Regions from separate parts of the Homo sapiens genome. Here region 2 is reported to be linked to region 1. The links are microRNA targets in miRTarBase. Many come from high-throughput screens and were not tested one by one. Region 1 holds a microRNA gene; the other region holds the end of a gene's coding sequence.
The links. Region 1 holds the annotated microRNA hsa-miR-4697-5p (AGGGGGCGCAGUCACUGACGUG, at 1,888-1,909, opposite strand). A microRNA usually pairs through its seed, bases 2 to 8, with sites in the 3' UTR of a target mRNA and lowers its output. Matches are read on the target gene's strand: a 7mer-m8 pairs with bases 2 to 8, a 7mer-A1 pairs with bases 2 to 7 and ends in A, and an 8mer does both.

Region 1 (5,072 bases):
ATGCAGTGTTACTGGGGATGAGTTGGTTAGTACTTAGCAAGCCTGGAAATACCAGCGAGTGGAGCCTGGCGTGGTAGCCTGAGCTGAGGCAGGCTGCAGGTTCTCTTCCTGACTGAGTCTGGGGTGTCACTCCATTTTTGACTGCCAAGTCAAAGGACAAAGGGATCACCATCATCAGCAGCCAGGGCAGGCGTCTATTGCTTAGGGCCGTAGAGCAGGCGTGGCTTTGGGGTCATCTCCAGCGGGGTCTTCTCAGTGTTTGGGAAGAAGGGGCAGGGCAGTCTATAGGCCCAGGCCCAGCAGCAGGATGCCCAGGGTCCCTGCAGGAAGAACCCTCTTCCCCAGGAAAGCAAGGAAGGGTTCGGGAGGAGACAGTTCCTCCTACTCTTGGAAGTCTGTGATTTGGTGGCTGGGGGTGCCTGCCCATTGGAAGGGCCCCTTATAAATGCTTTGAGTTTGGAGATTTTGAGGGAAAAAAAGCACCTGATTGAGAGTGTAGCTGTTTCCAATACACCTCCCTTCCCTGACGGAGAAGGGAAGGAGGCAGAAAACAGGGGAGAGAGCATCCCCCCTTCATTCCCACACCGCCCCACTCCCAGAGCCAACCTGGGCCTCCCTTCAAGCTCGTACTTAGTACATTCACCATGACACTGTGCACCTGTGAGCTCTCTCCCGCTCTCACTCTCTTGCGTGCACACACGCACACGCACACACACGCACAGGTATGCACACATATATATGCAGGTGCGCGCACACACACACATCTGGTTTCCTTGCAGTCTGCTCAGGCAGCAGAAGGGTGTCCCATCCTCACCGTCATCTTTTACTTCCCAGGGTGCCCTTGGCCCACAGGTCCCCAAGACCCAGCCCCAGGCTTGGCACGCGCTGGCATTCCCAGGCTTTTGAGAAGAGGGTGATAGAGCAGGGAGCTCCTCACAGACAGGTTATACAGAGTGTAGAATATGTTCATATAAGGCTTTGGTACAGCACCGATTTCATGTTCTTATAGTTTGATTTCTAAGTCATCTTTTAGAAGAAAAAAAAGCTTACTGAAAAAATAGTGGTTTTATTTACTTTTGAGTTACATACCTGAAGTTCAAAAAGTAAGCCTCTAGTTGCCATTCAAGTTCACACTCAAAGGTGTTCTGTGTGCAGCTGTACAATTTGTTGGTTTGTCTTTAATGTTGAACAAAAGTCAGCCAACCCATACCATAAAGTCAGCTGCCCAAACTCACTTTAACCAGTCCATACATACATACAGAAAAGAAAGAGAGAGAGAGGGAGAACACAAAAGCCGCCCCTAAGTCACCCACCCCAAACCCCTAGGGAAAAATCAGAAAGAAGACAAAATACAGCAAGATATCAGGAGCCAGTGGGAGGAAGGAGATTCAGCCCAACTGGCCTCTTCGAGAACAGCACCATGAAGCACCCTAGCGCAGTGATGTTGTAATACTCAACATTCAAGAAATGGAAACGAGGTTGGAACGGTCTTCACAGGAAGACCTGGCATGGATCGGGGGTCGCCCCCAAAGAAAGTGGAAGAAAGAAAGAGTTCGAAATGAGAGCAAGAAATCTCATGACGAAACTGACAGTCATATCCAGAAAAGAAGAACTACAGCAAGAGGCTGCCGCGCACCGAGAGGTACAGAGTTTGTAAGGGGTCTGGGGGAGGTAGCCCCTCCCCACCCACACTGCCTGCTCACCCCCACCCTCTGTGTGTCCTCAGACCACCAGGTGAAATGGAGGAAAGAAGCTCATCTAAAACTTGCCCCCAGGTGTGCGATGGGAGAATTCTATCCTGCATGATCAAAGTCCCTCCTGGGGAAGAGAAAAACACTGAAGACCAAGGGGCAGGAGTCACTGACATGAAGCGGGATGTGGTCCCTTCACGTCAGTGACTGCGCCCCCTTCTGGGCCCTCTATCCCCAGCCCCACACCTGGCAGTTAGGAAATTAAATCTGAATGGGAGGTCAAGACCTTCTGACACTGATACAGACGACTTAGCAAGTGGAGCGTTAAACTGCTCTTCTCCCCTAGCCAACAATTCCCCTTTCTAACACCTCAGTCTAAAGTTCCAGAATCAAGACCATCCCATCAAGTACCTTCCTCCCAGTCCCTGGACTCTGAGACTCCACCCTCCAATGCCACAGGCAACCCCCTGTGGACAGGAAGTGTGTGTGCAGGCTTGCCTCTTCCCCCACCTCCTACTTTCAGACCGCCCAAAGTGGATCACCATGAACATCTACCGCCAAGAAGAGTGGAAGCGGGAAGCAGGCAGCAAAAATCCACGACAGAGCCTTTTCCCCAAGCTGCTGGTTGGTGACAGTGGGGAAGAGGGACAGGGCCCACACTGATCCATGGGAGAGTGATTCTCACACATCTCCCTATTCCCGACTCTTGCTCTATATAGTAGACAGAGGTAGCAAGACAGAAACAACTCCTCAGATACCTCCACCTTCTACCAAAGGGAAAAGCACCAAAATTCAATGTCCATTCTGCTGTGGGGACCAAGGAACGTGTCCCAAGCATGGGGAAGAGCTCAGGCTCCTGGCAGTGGCTGTGGGCCGTAAAAGCTCCATCAGAGCACACTCATCCACCTGTCGCCCCAACTGATGCCACAAGCGGTTCCCAGGCCTCCTCCTTACTCCACATAAAGCTGATCTCAATGACCTTTGCTCCAAGTGCCTTAAGGGCTGGCTCTTCAGAGAAGCTGGAGGTCCCCTCTGACACCCAACCTTACCTCATCTTGCTGAGCAGTGGAGCAGAAAGGTCACAGGTAGGCACTAACATCCCCTCCACACTGTACAATTTCAAGGTAGGGGCTATGGCCCCATCTTCCCTTTCCCTCCCCAAAATGAAGAGTCCTGTTGGAGGCTGAGGAATAGAATGGTGACATGTGGGCCAGTGGCTCTCCCAGACCTTGATGCTGCTGAGGACCTAATCTTGGGCTGGCCCTGGTGGGAGGGCAAGCCCTAGGACATGCCCGAGGTGTTGGAGCAGTTTACTCTGCTGGTTGCATGTGGCCAGAAGTCGGGCAGAGTCCACAGAAAGAGAGGGGATGGTGGGTCTAGAAGCCAACAGAACAGTAATGGGAGCCTCCCTTGTGCAGAGACCGTGGTGGTCTGGGAAGGCTTCAAGGTAGGAAGGGAACAGAATTTGCACCTCTTCTTCTTGCCCAATCCCCCTGAAAAATCTTACAAGAAACACTCAGCTGCAGGAGCCTGCAAGAAAGATCATTCAAGGCAAGGATGGTGCCACTGACAGTGGCACCAGCACTGGATCCTTCCAGCTGCATGGACAGAGCCCATTTCCCATCAGCGTCCTCGGAAAGTGGGGAGTGTTCTCAGCAGTTAATTTGAGGACCCAAGGACAGTGCCTGACTGAATGGCAGGGCCTCATAGGTCCATGTAAGGATCAAGAGTTAGACTCAAGCTTTACCCCAACCTACTCTTCCCATAATACCCCAAAACTGTCAACCAAGCCCTTCTCACGCTGAAGGTATCTGCTTTCCTCTAAGGACCAAACTCTATAGACAAGAGCTCTTAGGGAGTGCCATGTCTTGGTTAGGAAAGGGGTTAGTACTGCCCTTTTCTGAGTGATGAGCAGGAATAAGGAGCCGAAAGGTTGCAGTCCTGAGTCTCTCCTCACTGCCTGCACCATCTGGCCCAGCACCAGCTTCAAATACATCACTCCGAGCTCCGGGCAAGTCAGGAAGGAGCTAGCACCAGGAGACGCTTGCTGAGGCTGCAAGGCAGAGCCCTTGCATATGTGTGAGGTCTGGAATTTGCTCAGAGAGGTATTCTTCAGGGCACACTGCTTCCTGCTCAGATACAAGTGAACTCCTGCTCCCCAGAATCTCCCATTGTGGGTCCAGTTCTGCCAATACATTGTTCAGTTTTGTAAGTCCCCGGCTGGAGGCCAGAAGGAAGGTTCCACTAAGACCCCCTCTCCCAGGCCGGCCCACAGTTCATCTCTCCCTCCTCATCCTCCACTCAGTGTCCCAGGATTGGAGCATCCTATTTGCAATGGCACTTTATTTCCAATTAAAAATAACTGAAAAAAACATAGATGACATATTTATACTACATACCACATTCACACTGGCTCTAAGAATCTGCAGCAACACTAAACAGGCCATGTGTTCTCCAAGACCAAGCCCAGGCAGCCAGCCTCACAAACTCTCCCATTGCCATGCCCTCTATGAGCGGTCTGAGCTGTCTGAGCTACAGTGCTACAAACCAAGACAGGTGTCACCGTAGGTCCCTAGGTAGTCTCAACCACCCCCTTTCTAATGCTGTGAAGCCAGGTTTTCTCTGAGGAACTGGTTACCTTTCCACAGCCACGTGGGGATGGAGTCACAGTTTTCATCTCCTCAGCCTTGCCCTGTTAAGCCCCTCTGCAAAGAAGTTCAAGTCAACATCCCTCCCAAGTGGCAAGAGACACATTGGTCCTGGTTCTTTAGGGCTATCAGATCCTGCAGCTCCACACAACCTTCAGCTCACTTGTCCTTCCTGCAGGTGGGTTATTTGTTTTGTTATTTTACAAACTTTTCATATATACACATTTCCATCAGAAAGACCCAAGCAACTCTGAACAGAGAGAATACCAAAGGAAGAGCAGGGAAGGAGGTGGCGTCAAGGCATGAGCTAGTATCCCAGACTGCCTGGGAAGGTAGCACTGCTCAAAACATCTCTAAGCACAGGTACAAAAATAAAGCAAACTATGACTTCATATAGATATAGAGATATATAGACTTTATCTAGGTGTTCTTTATATTTATATATGTGTGCAGAGGGCACGGGCCCCTGCCCATCTTGCCCGGCACTCATCTCTTGCCCTCCCGCTCCCCACACCCGAGTGCCACTCGCCCGAAGCTCCCAGTCTCCACGATTGCATCTGATCCTTGCCTCCCACATACATTCCCCTCTCTCCTTAAAATAGAACCAATTCTGTAGATTTATATAATTTTATGTACAGTCTCCATAAAAAATACATTAAAGATGGTGCATTACTAATTTGACCCTCCTACCCAAACAGAAGTTGTCTAGCAAAAGAGCCAAACAAAGGAGGGT
Region 2 (5,058 bases), not on the chromosome of region 1:
GACAACCCTCGCCAGGTCCCCTCACCATGTCCCCCTCTTAGGTGCGGCAGCAGGAGCTATTGCTGAAGTTGCTACAGCAGCAGCAGGCGGTCCCTGTGCCCCCCGCACCCAGCTCCCCGCCCCCACTCTGGGCTGGCCTGGCCAAGCAGGGGCTGTCCATGAAGACGCTCCTGGAGTTGCAGCTGGAGGGCGAGCGGCAGCTGCACAAACAGCCCCCACCTCGGGAGCCAGCTCGGGCCCAGGCCCCCAACCACCGAGTGGTGAGCAGGCCGGGAACCTCCCGGGCTCCCCCTACAGTTTCCAGGGTGGCACAGGGAGGGGGATACTGAACCCAGACTTGTGCAGCCCCAGCCCCAGTCCCAGCCTCTCCTGTGATGGCAACAGCTCTTGTGGCCCTCACCTCACCTGTCTCCCTTTGCCACCTAAACAAGCCTCCCCATCCGCTTTTCTGGGGTGCCTTTGTTTGAGCCACTCTGATCTTCTGCCATCTGTAGCAGCTTGGGGGCCTGGGCACTGCCCCCCTGAACCAGTGGGTGTCTGAGGCTGGGCCACTGTGGGGCGGGCCAGACAAGAGTGGGGGCGGCAGCAGCGGCCTGGGGCTCTGGGAGGACACCCCCAAGAGCGGCGGGAGCCTGGTCCGTGGCCTCGGCCTGAAGAACAGCCGGAGCAGCCCATCTCTCAGGTGGGCGTGGCACCTGGAGGCTCCGGGATGGCCCTGAGGGGGAAGGTGGCAGACCCCCCCAACCCCTGCCAGCTGATTTCCAACCCTGACTCACCCTCCCCCTTCAGTGACTCATACAGCCACCTATCGGGTCGGCCCATTCGCAAAAAGACGGAGGAAGAAGAGAAGCTGCTGAAGCTGCTGCAGGGCATTCCCAGGCCCCAGGACGGCTTCACCCAGTGGTGCGAGCAGATGCTGCACACGCTGAGCGCCACGGGCAGCCTGGACGGTGGGCGAGCGGCTCCCAGGAGGTGGGCGGGACCTGGGTCTCCAGACCCGGCCAGGGGGCCCTGACAGCCTTCGCTCATCCTGCAGTGCCCATGGCTGTAGCGATCCTCAAGGAGGTGGAATCCCCCTATGATGTCCACGATTATATCCGTTCCTGCCTGGGGGACACGCTGGAAGCCAAAGAATTTGCCAAACAATTCCTGGAGCGGAGGGCCAAGCAGAAAGCCAGCCAGCAGCGGCAGCAGCAGCAGGTGAGGCAGCCGGCACCAGCAGCTGGGGTGGGCTTGCCTGGTGCCTCCTGACCTTCACCCTCCTCTCCGCTGCCTTAGGAGGCATGGCTGAGCAGCGCCTCGCTGCAGACGGCCTTCCAGGCCAACCACAGCACCAAACTCGGCCCCGGGGAGGGCAGCAAGGCCAAGAGGCGGGCACTGATGCTGCACTCAGACCCCAGCATCCTGGGTGAGCTGGGCTGGGGCAGGAGCGGGACTTCCTTGGCACAGGGCAGGAGGAGCCCAGGAGAGAGCTCAGACGCAGCTTCTCCCCGGCTTCAGGGTACTCCCTGCACGGATCTTCTGGTGAGATCGAGAGCGTGGATGACTACTGACCAGCCCGGACCCCCAGCCCCTGGGCTGTAGGCCAGGGCAGCCACAGCGGCGTGGACCGAGGGTCCCAGCCTGCAGGCTCCCCGCAGAGAGCACAGGAAGAGGCAGGGGCGGGGTCCCCAGCACTTGTTACAAACACACGATGCACCTTAACTCACCCACCACGAGGCACTTTACAGACTGGGGGAGGGGGTTTTTCTTTTTATTTTTTTTTTTAATTTTAAACGACTGAAGAAAACATTAGGAGAGGCAAAAATATTGTTAAAAACTAGACTCTAAACACCCCTTCCTGCTGTGAGGATAGTGGGTGTGACAATGGAAGGTCCACAGAGGTTTTTGTTTTTTGGTTTTTTTTTTTTTTTTAAGAAAAAAAGATGAAAAATGAAAAAAAAAATGGTTAGGAGGCTGAAAGAAAAAACACACTGTTATTTTGGGGCAGTGGGGACACAGGCCCCGTGGACCTGTCCTGCCTGGCCCCCAAGGCCATACTTACCCCCCAGAAGGCGGGCCATGGGGTAACTGGAAGCTGGGGGCCAGCAGTTTGCACAGGAGGCCTGTCTGAGCCCCACCCGCCAGACCTGTTGTGAGCAGCTCCTGTCACTGAGGCTGGCTGAGGTGTCCGGGGTGGGGCCAAAGTAGCCCCTTGGCTTCGCTGCTTTGGGGGACAGTTGCACAAATTGGACGAGTGGCCCCAGCTCTCTGGCTGCCATCTTGTGCTGGCCGAGTAGACGGGAGGGGCCAAGCCGTGCCAACCTCTCTGGCTGGCAGGGTGGGGCAGCAGGACTCTGGTTCTGGTGAGGGGCGTCTCCCACTGCTGCCATTTTGGGGGACACCCTGGGTTTGAACCTGAAAGCCCCAGCTCTCTGCCTTGCCACGTGAATGTATTCTTTGGGCCACAAGCCCCCGCCTCACCCCTGCCTGAGCTGCCTCACCCCTGTGAGCGGCGGGGGTGGATGATTGCTCCAGAGGCTGCAGAGAGAAGGCTGAGCTGTTTCTCCAGTGAAGGGGGCAGGAGGAGGGGCCTCAAAGGCAAGGAGTGGGTGGCTTTGGGCTTAGGGTTGCAGTAGAGGGGCTGCCGCCCGGGGCCCCAACCTGTAGCCAGCTCGTAAGATGTGGACCACCCAGCTCTGCACCTGACCCTTCCGCTGACCAAATGGGAGAGGAGCAGGTGGCCTTCCGGGTCTGATATGATGCGCTTTTTACCGTTGGGTAAGGTTGGGGTGAAGAGAAGTGTGCGGCTCCTGGGTCAGAGGAGGCTGCCCCTTCTATTGCTCACCCACTTCTTATTCCCGGTCCCCTACTTGGGTTCGTCTCCGCCCATTTTGGGTTTTGTAACAGTTTTGTCTTTTGGGTTTCTCATCCAGCTCCTCCCATTGACCTCATTGCTCAGAGTGCAGTATTAGGGCAAGGCTTCGCCACTGCCTCCCTCCATGAATGTATTTCTCCCTCCTGCCCTGGGGACATGGGGAGTGGCCCGTTTCTTTCCCCATCTAGTCCCAGAAAGATGGTGTTTGGTTTTCTGTTGTTGGATTTTTTTTTTTTTTTTTTTTTTTTTGCACCAAAGTGGCAACTAGGTCAGTGTTGGGGGATCAAGCTGGCCTCGGGGTGGGGGGCCCCCACCTGCCTCTCCCTGGTTCCCACAGTGTTAGCGTCCCTGAAAAGACAATATTCTCTCTAAAGCAATAAGGGGTGACGGGCCGGGGGGAGTGTTTGCTGCTGCTGGCCCCCAGCTCCCCTTCCCTCTTGCCAGGTGTGGGGGAGACTCCTGTTGTGACTGAATGTAACCCCCCCACCCCTGCCGCAGCCAATGCAGGGGAAGGGGGACACTCTTCCTGTCTCTTCTCCCCAGCTAAAGAGACTTTGGACTTAGGGGGCCCATGAGCCTGGAGAGGCCTTAACCCTGTGAGGAAGTATAGGGGGAGCCCTCTCCCACCCCCATCCCCTTCTGAGAGTGGTCAATGTTTACAAGCCCCTGAGCCCCCCTGCCCAGGGACTCAGACCCTGTTGCTGTCCTTCCCCGGCCCCGGTCTTCCTGGGCCCTCGCTGCTCCCCTGCCCTTCCTGGGGTTGGGGTGGGTGCAGGGGTCACCGTGTTCCCTGTCTGCCTTGTACCCACAGTCTCCCCGCCCCCTCTCCACCCTGTGTGACTTCCCTCTCTTTTACCTGCTCCTGTAAATACTCCCTTCTCCCAATAAAACTTGGTGTGTGTTCTCCCGTTCCGCCTCCACTGCTCGTTATCTGGGGAGAGCCATGGGGATGAGTGGCTCTGCACAGAGCTGGGAACTAGGAGCTCTGAGCAGTGCCCGCCTGGTCAGGCTGGCTCTGGTCAGCAGCCTGACGGGGGAAACCATGGTGAGGGCTGCTTATCCGAGAACCTCTGGACGGAAGGCTCTGGGCTGGGGCTTCAGCTTTGCTCTGAGGGAGAGTGGGGACCCCACCCCCAGCCCCAGCTGCCTGGCAGGCCCCATACCTTCCCCACCATCCACCCCCTCAGCAGCCCTCAGGCAACAAAGTCCAGAAACAAGGAGAACACAGCAAGGGCAGAGACCAGGTACAGAGTTGGAATTGGCTCCTTTATGGAAAAACTGAAAATATAATAAAAATTAAAATAAAACCAGTTTTAAAAAAGCCAGCCCCTGGGGTTTCCACCTCCTGCCTCCGGCCCTCCAGAGGGGTGAGGCCCCAACCCCAGGGCAGCAGAAGGATGAGGGCCTCCTGCTCCTCCTCTTCCCCCATTCCATCCCCTTCTTATCTCCACAGTGGGGGCCCCGGGAGGAACCAAACCTGGGTGGGAGGGCAGGGACCCAAGGCCCCGTGGCCCGGGGAAGGGGGCTGGGATTGCGCCAGCCCCGCAGCCCTGGCCTGTAGTGTGGGCATGGGCAGGGCCCCTCCTGGCCTGGGCCCAGTGGGGGTGGGGCCATTAGTTCCAGATCTTGAGGAAGGAGTCCCAGGAGCCCGTGGCCACAGCCATGCCATCGTCGGTGACCCCGAGGCAGCTCACGCGGTTGTCGTGGCCAGCGAGGACTCCTGTGAAGAAGAGAGAAGTCAGAACCCATTGGGCCTGGGCTCCAGGTCCCTGCCCACCCAGCCTGGGCCCCAGCTGTCACCTGCACGGTCGCCCTTCATGGCATCCCAGATGTTGCAGTTGAAGTCGTCGTAGCCAGCGAGCAGCAGCCGTCCGCTGCGCGAGAAGGCAACAGAGGTGATGCCACAGATGATGTTGTCATGGGAGTACATGAGGAGCTCCTGATCGGCCCGCAGGTCGAAGAGGCGGCACGTGGCGTCGTCAGAGCCGGTGGTGAAGGCGTAGCCGTTGGGGAAGAACTGCAGGACACGGGACCCAGATGGGGTGAGGGTGAGGGTGAGGAGCAGGGCCGGGAGCCTGGTGGGGAGGGCCTGGCCTAGCTCGCCCCAAAACTCACAGCCACTGCATTGATGTCGGATTCATGGCCGATGAAGGTCTGTCGGCACATGGAATCCCGCACGTCCCACAGCTTGATAGAGGCAT

Region 2: the mRNA of GNB2 is a reported target of hsa-miR-4697-5p. Seed matches in the 3' UTR shown: 7mer-A1 at 4,311-4,317.

Annotation. Positions count from the first base shown.
Region 1 is chr11:133,896,664-133,901,735 of GRCh38, forward strand. MIR4697 (microRNA 4697) reads right to left here and starts at 1,918; the gene lies at 1,841-1,918. It overlaps IGSF9B (immunoglobulin superfamily member 9B), which reads right to left. Exons shown (of 20, transcript NM_001277285.4): 20 at 1-5,072.
Region 2 is chr7:100,678,214-100,683,271 of GRCh38, reverse strand. GNB2 (G protein subunit beta 2) reads right to left here. Exons shown (of 10, transcript NM_005273.4): 8 at 4,973-5,058; 9 at 4,658-4,874; 10 at 4,103-4,577. The coding sequence ends at 4,471. GIGYF1 (GRB10 interacting GYF protein 1) reads left to right here. Exons shown (of 27, transcript NM_001375765.1): 22 at 42-260; 23 at 495-682; 24 at 790-950; 25 at 1,037-1,200; 26 at 1,279-1,408; 27 at 1,501-3,765. The coding sequence ends at 1,553. Among named protein-coding and RNA genes, the nearest start is that of GNB2, 7.0 kb to the right of the region's middle. RefSeq lists an enhancer at 3,915-4,044.